Linked DNA regions of Homo sapiens. The protein of the gene in region 2 interacts with the protein of the main gene of each other region in a pairwise test. Each region holds a gene or a part of one and is shown on either strand. Other genes may lie near its edges.

What was found.
Region 1: the proteins of LRRC25 (region 2) and SPNS3 interact in binary tests that used the Homo sapiens proteins (3 or more experiments, as listed by UniProt).

The regions. Positions count from the first base shown.
Region 1 is NC_000017.11:4,450,895-4,454,644, reverse strand, and holds part of SPNS3 (protein spinster homolog 3), read right to left. Parts: intron 1,630-3,750; coding exon 1,440-1,629; intron 1,297-1,439; coding exon of another isoform or gene 1,189-1,296; exon of another isoform or gene 59-1,188; intron 1-58. UniProt on the Homo sapiens protein: Sphingolipid transporter.
Region 2 is NC_000019.10:18,390,935-18,394,684, forward strand, and holds the end of LRRC25 (leucine-rich repeat-containing protein 25 precursor), read right to left. Parts: intron 1,192-3,750; coding exon 1,053-1,191; 3' UTR 203-1,052; downstream 1-202. UniProt on the Homo sapiens protein: Plays a role in the inhibition of RLR-mediated type I interferon signaling pathway by targeting RIGI for autophagic degradation.

The DNA.
Region 1 (3,750 bases), on a different chromosome or scaffold from region 2:
ACTCTGTCTCAAAAAAAAAAAAAAAAAAAAAAAAGCTTTATTTGGAAGCAGGGCTAAAGTTGTTTTGATTTCAGTGGGACCAGACTGTTTAGTTCATGTGTGTGACTAGAGAAGCAATGGGCTCTGGCCATGGGTAGGAGATGCAGCCAAACTAGTGTGAGGACAATAAAGTTGTGGCTGGTTTACTTTTCCAAAGTCCAGTCTGCTCAGTAAACCTGGTTAACATGTGCAAGCGCATCTGTGTCTGCAGCCACAGGGCCCAGGGCCATGGAGCTGGGAAAGGAGGAGAGGTCTAGCCCCTCTGCTTGTGGCTGGGCTGGCGTCATCTTCCCAGAAGCAGTAGCCCTTTCCCATGTTGGGGGACAGGCAGGGCTGGGGCTTTGGGGAGCCAGGGACACGGCTGCACACAGGGACCCTCTGGCTCTGGTCCTGCCCTTTGGGCTCCCTGTCTGTGGACAGGCCCCATAAACCTTGGTGCCTCATGGGACCCAAACAGGTGCTGAGCCCAAGTGGGAACGTGAATTCTGGTGTGAGGATAGAGTGGTAGGGGAAGGCTTTTGGAGGAAGCGGACTTTGAGTTGAGTCTTGCAGAAGGAGGATTTCAGGATGCACAAAAGAGGAACTGGTGTTCTTGGTGGAAGAAATGGACGCGTGCAAAGTCTGGGAAGTGTGTGTGCCCACACGGCTGGCACAGCCAGAGTGTGAGGCCCATGAAGGGGTGTGATGGGATGTGGATTTGGAACACTTGATATTACCATGATTATTGCCCTTAAAGCAGCGTCCACATTGGCCATAACCAATCTGGGCCTTGCTTCCCTCCTCTGTAACCTGGGGAGAATTGCTCTATTTCTTCTTGGGCCCACAATATGCCCTGGCAATAAATGAGTCCTATTTTCTCAAATTAACACATTAACCCAATGCTCAGAGGACACCTTTTACAGTCAGAAAAGCTCAGGCTCAAATCCCAGTTCTGCCCCTTCTTCACTGTGGAACTCCTGGTAAGCTTCTCTCTCTGTTTTTTTCCCCCAAGATGGAGTCTTGCTCCATTGCCCAGGCTGGAGTGCAGTGGCGCAATCTCAGCTCACTGCAACCTCCACCTCCCGCGTTCAAGCGATTCTCCTGCCTCAGCCTCCCAAGCAGCTGGGATTATAGGTGCCTGCCACCATGCCCAGCTAATTTTTTGTATTTTTAGTAGAGACAGGGTTTCACCATATTGGCCAGGCCGGCCTTGACCTCCCAAAGTGCTAGGATTACAGACATGAGCCACCGCGTCCAGCCAAGCTTCTCTTTACTGATCTGTAAAATGGGGATAACAAGCTCTACTCAGAAGGAGTGATCAACATAATTGTACATAAAGGCCGGGCGCAGCATGAGCCTGTGGAAACAGGAGTTCCTCGCCCCCCAACCCTGTCCCCACCTCCATAGAGGCTCTCACTTACATAGGAGGCCAGCAGGGTGGTCGGGGCCAGGACGAGAGCCAGGTAGAGGCAGGGGGCTGTGGCAAGCAGGCTGGAGGCGCAGATGAGGGGCTCAGCTCCTGGAATGACTTTCTTGTACCTCCTCGCAGCTTCTGCCCCCAAGATGACCCCAATGACGCCGGTCATGATGGTCAGTGCCCCAAAAATCAGGCTGATGGGGAAGAGCACAGAAGGGTTGGTCAGCTGGGTGAGCTTAGCATAGGGACTCTTATCCTGCTCCCAGCCCCAGGTCTAGCCCCTCGGCTCAAGTGCATGATCTGGTGTCTACAGGGAATATGGCTGTGGGCCCCTGACCTGACCCAGAACCTTACCCACCCTCCTCACTGATACTCCCAGGGACCAATGTCCCACTGCTCTCCCCTACCCCCTTTCCTGCCTCATCTCCTGTCTCATCCTGGGGATCCCACTGGCCATGTGGGTGATCACCCTGCACCCCAGGTCCCAGCCTGCCTCATCTCCATTGACCCTTACCCTTTCACCCCCCAAAACTGCCCCACTCAAAATCTGAATTCCAGGGTCCCACCCTGGCCCCAACCTTCTCTCTTTCCAGCTCCCAGTACTAAGAGGAATGGAGGGAAGCAAACATGTATTTACTGAGCCCCTGTGATACACCTGGCCCTTGTCTGGGCTCTCTACACGCCCTCCCTCCTTGAATCCCATCCTTCCACTCCCCGTCTTTGAACCCCTCTCAGGCAGCCCCTACCTGACTTCCGTCCCTTTCCCACCCACTTTTAGAGCCACTTCTACTCTGCTTGGCTTCCCCTTGTACATCCTTCCTGTGGAGACCTGTCCCTCCAAAATAACCTCCACAAAGGCTCCCCAGGAGTGCATTTTGTGGCAGGAGATCTGTGGTGGGAGGAGTTCCAGATCAGAAAGATTTTGTCTCTACAAAAAATTTTTAAATCATCCAGCCTTGGTGGCGTGCACCTGTAGTCCCAGCTACTCAGGAGGCTGAGGCGGGAGGATCGCTTGAGCTCAGAAGTTCGAGGCCACAGTGAGCTATGATCATACCACTGCACTCCAGCTTGGGCAACAATTCCCAGATGGATAGGTGAGCAAGGTGAGGCTGAGAAAAGTCAAGGCCAAGATTACCCAGCTGGTAAATTACAGACCAGGATTTGAATATACTTCTTCACCCTCCTGGTCCATTGTGCAACCTCCAGCCCCCTTTTAAAGGAGCTCAAAGGGGACCAGGCAAGGTGGCTTAAGCTTGTAATCCCAGCACTTTGGGAGGCCGAGGTGGGTGGATCACTTGAGGTCAGGAATTCAAGACCAGCCTGGCCGATACAGCAAAACCCCGTCTCTACTAAAAAAAAAAAAAAATACAAAAATTAGCTGGGAACAGTGGTGGGCACCTGTAATCCCAGCCCACTCAGGAGGTTGAGGCAGGAGAATCACTTGAATCCGGGAGGTGGAGGTTGCAGTGAGCTGAGATCACACCACTGCACTCCAGCCTGGGCAAGAGAGCAAGACTCCGTCTCAAAAACAAAACAAAACAAAACAAATAAAGGAGCTCAAAGGGAACGCTGAGACTGTGCCCACTGTGAACTCTTGAAAACACCAGTCCAACCAGGATCTTTCCAACCTCTCAATAGCTCCCTGTCGTCCTCTGAGCAAGCTCCTGACCAGCACTGATGACTCTGCGGGACTGGTCCACGCTGACCGATGTAGCTTGCCCTCTCTTCTCCCACCCTCACTTTGCACAAATGACTGAGAATTCTCTAAATTCTCTACCAAAAGTACAAAAATTAGCTGGGCGTGGTGGTGTGCGCCTGTAGTCCCAGCTACTTGGGAGGCTGAGGCAGGAGAATCGCTTGAACCCGGGAGGCCGAGGTTGCAGTGAGCCGAGATCGTGCTACTGCACTCCAGCCTAGCAACACAGCAAGACTCTGTCTCAAATGGAAAAAAAAAAAAAACAAAGAAGAAGAAGAAGAAGTGCTTTCTAAACCTTCCCAGGCTTCCAAGCTGTGCGAGGTCTGGCTCAGCCCAGTCAAATGACCCAAATCCCGGATGTATGCTAGCTGCCTCTGAGTCCTGGTCTGGGCTGACCTTGGCAGGTTCTCGAGATATTCATGAGACTTAGGATTGATTATTTAGACAGGCTGCCTGAAAATGCACCCCCGCCAGCCCCTAAGCAGGAGGGGCAGCCAGAGGACATGCCCCAGCTACCAAGCCCTTCATGTTCCCTCCATCCACACAGGGCCCTCCCAGCATCACAGACTCTTACAGCCAAGAGAGCCCTTAAGGATCTGTAAGTTCGGCCGGGCACGGT
Region 2 (3,750 bases):
TACTTGTCTCTAGTTCTATCTCCCCCAGGTTGGAGGATTGGGCTGGGACCAGCTGATAGGAAACCCAGTTGAGGCATGAGCCTGAAAAAACTCTTGAAATACAGACATCTGTGAGTCATTAACTCTGCCTGAGAAGAAACCAGGGACAGCTTCTCAAAGGAGGTGGCATTGCACCAGGGTCTTGAAAGATTTTCTCAGAATATTAGAGCTAAAGGAATATATACATTTTTTTATTTTGGGGTTGGTGTGGGCTGCTCTGGAGGCCAAGCCTGGAGATCAGGGACCTGGGAAGGGGCCCTGAGAGGGGCAGAAGGGAGGAATGTGCCTGGGCGCAGTGGCCACGCCTGTAATCCCAGCACTTCAGGAGGCCGAGGCGGGCAGATCGCTTGAGGTCAGGAGTTCGAGACCAGCCTGGCCAACATGGCGAAACCCCATCTCTATTATAAATACAAAAATTAGCTCGGCATGGTGGCGGGTGCTGTAATCCCAGCTACTCAGGAGGCTGAGGCAGGAGAATCACTTGAACCCAGGAGGCGGAGGTTGCAGTGAGCTGAGACCGCAGCATTGCACTCCAGCCTGGGTGACAGAGTGACACTCAGTTTCAAAAACAAACAAACAAACAACAACAACAAAAAAAAACAGGGATGGGAGGTGGGGAGCAATTTGGGAGTCTCAGATGGAGACTTGGTCTTAGAACTCAGAAATCCCCACCTTGAGGAACCCACGCACCCTGAGCCAGCAGCCTCATCAGCCTCGAAGCATTTATTGAGCACTGCCTGTACATCCACAGGAGGGTGATGACAGGATTGGCACAGTGACCGTCCTGTCCCCTTGTTGGGGGTCTCTCCTCTTCCCCCTCTAGGAGCTGAGGGAGCTGAGGAGCGGCATGAGGGACAGGGAGGGGGCGGCAGAGCTTCCTGGGGCCTCAAGGACAATCCTTTCCTGTACCCATTCTTCAGATGGGGAAACTGAGGCCATGGAGGCGTTAGGACGCCCTGAGTCACCCAGCAGGGACTGAAGGGGTTCTGGGTGGAGGTTAGGACATCTTAGGCTCAGTGCCCGGGGATCACGTACTCCTCTTCATCCATTGGGGCCTGGCCCAGTGACTGCAGGTTACAGTAGACAGGCTGGGAAGCCAGGTCGATGTCCTTGTAGTTGATGTAAAAGTCATTGTCCTCTGAAGGGTGAGCCCTGGGGGGACAGACAGACCAGGGGTAAGTGTGGGAGGGGGAGGACTCAGGGGACAGGCACATGAGCTTTGAGAAAGTCCAGAGTGGGCCAGGTGCTCTGACTCACGCCTGTAATCCAGCACTTTGGGAGGCTGAGGTGGGTGGATCACCTGAGATCATGAGTTCAAGACCAGCCTGGACAACATGATGAAACCTCGTCTCTACTAAAAATACAAAAATTATCCAGGCATGGTGGCACAGGCCTGTAGTCCCAGCTACTCGGGAGTCTGAGGCAGGAGAATCACTTGAACCCAGGAGGTAGAGGTTGTAGTGAGCCGAGATCGTGCCATTGCACTTCAGCCTGGGAGACAGAGCAAGACTCTATCTCAGAAGGAAAAAAAAAAAGAAAGCTTCAGAGTGGCTCAGTCCACCCCGAATATTTACATATGGGGAAACTGGCACGGGCTAGCGTTCTGACTCCTAGCCAACCCCACCTCTCTCTGAGGAGGCTGCGGGAGGGCAGTGATTTAGGGAAGGTTCTGTGGGTGTAACGCTGCGGTCTGAGGACCCTGAACCCTTTTTCCTTCCTTAAAAATGAGATAGCGGCCAGGCGCGGTGACTCATGCCTGTAATCCCAGCACTTTGGGAGGCCAAGGCAGAAGGTCTGCTTGAGGCCAGGAGTTTGAGACCATCCTGAGCAACAGGGTGAGACCCCATCTCTACAAAAAATTAAAAAATTATTCAGGCGTGGTGACGTGTGCCTGGAGTCCCATCTCCTCGGGAGGCTGAGGTGGGAGGACCGCTTGAGCCCAGGAGGTCGAGCCTACAGTGAGCCGTTATCACACCACTGCACTGCAGCCTGGATGACAGAGGGAGACCCCGTCTCAAAAAAAACAGAAATTGAGGTAGCTGTTCATTATTACATTAAAATCTAAATTTTTGTTTCCTCTTGAAAAATCGGAAGCTCTGGCCACGTCAGTCACATGCACACAAGTGGCTGCACCCACACTCTGTGCTCCTTCCGATGGGAAATGTTTTCACCACTGAAGCAACTGACTTTGTGGCCCTCATATATAAAAGCAAGTCTCTGAGCCTCAGTTTCTGCATCTATAGAATTGGTCAAGGAGCAGGTAGCTACTTAGGAATATTTGTTATGGTCAGCAAGACCTCCAGAGAATTTTCCTGCCTCCTGAACATTCTAATTCCAACCCAGCTCCTCTTGTAAAAAGGGCCACTGGGCCAGGTGCGGTGGCTCACGCCTATAATCCCAGCACTTTGAGAGGCCAAGGTGGGCAGATCACCTGAGGTCAGGAGTTCAAGACCAGCCTGGCCAACATGGCAAAACCCCGTCTCTACTAAAATTAGCCGGGTGTGATGGTGGGCGCCTGTAATCCCAGCTACTCGGGAGGCTGAGGCAGGAGGCAGGAGAATCACTTGAACCCGGGAGGTGAAGGTTGCAGTGAGCCGAGATCATGCCATTGCACTCTAGCCTGGGCGACAGAGCGGGAAAAAAAAAAAGGCAAAAGGGCTACTTTGTGTTAACAGCATCTATCAGTCAATTATACTCTAGTACGAATTGCCCACCAACCCCTAAGTGGTTGTAGGGGGACGAACAGGTCTGGGACGCAGGGTTTGTGTCCTGCCTTTTTTGACTGGCTATGTGACCTTGGACAAGTCATTTCCCTGCCTCCCAGAGCCTCCATGTCTGTAACTGTAAGATGCAGGGTGGAAATGACACAGTCAATTCTAAACACAGTGTTTCTGGAGGCCAGTACATAAAGGAGGCTGATCCGGAAGCCTCGGGGACAGGGAGGCCAAGATGAACATCAGAGCACAAGCTGCTTTTGCGAGTCCAGTGTCTTCAACACCCTGCCTCAGACCATTTCTGCTTTTGAGCCATGTTGACATCTGCTTTGCATATTTTCTCCTTTCTCACCAACAGCCTTCCGATAGCCTCCCCACCTCCTGGCACGGACTCTGCTGCCCAAACACAGCCATGGCCGCGGCCCCTTCCTGCTTGGCCCTCCCTGTTCCCCTCAGGCCTCAGCTTTCAAGTCATCCCTTCTCAAAAACCATTCACAGCAAATTCTCTGTTCTTTCCCACCTCTGGGTCTCTGCCCCTGAGGGTCCCACCCCTTGAAATTCCCTCCATTCCCTTTTCCAACCTAGAAAAGCTTTTCTTTTCTTTTTTTCTTTCTTTCTTTCTTTTTTTTTTTTTTTGAGACGGAGTCTCGCTCTGTCGCCCAGGCTGGGGTGCAGTGGTGCGATCTGGGCTCACTGCAACCTCCACCTCCTGGGTTCAAGTGATTCTTCTTGCCTCAGCCTCCCAAGTAGCTGGGATTACAGGCACCCACGACCATGCCCGGCTAATTTTTGTATTTTTAGTAGAGACAGGGTTTCACCATATTGGCCAGGCTGGTCTCGAACTCCTGACCTCGTGATCCTCCTGCCTTGGCCTCCCAAAGTGTTGGGATTACAGGCATGAGCCACCGTGCCCGGCCTAATTTTTGTATTTTTTAGTAGAAACAGGGTTCCACCATGTTGGTCAGGCTGGTCTTGAGGTCCTGACCACAGGTGATCT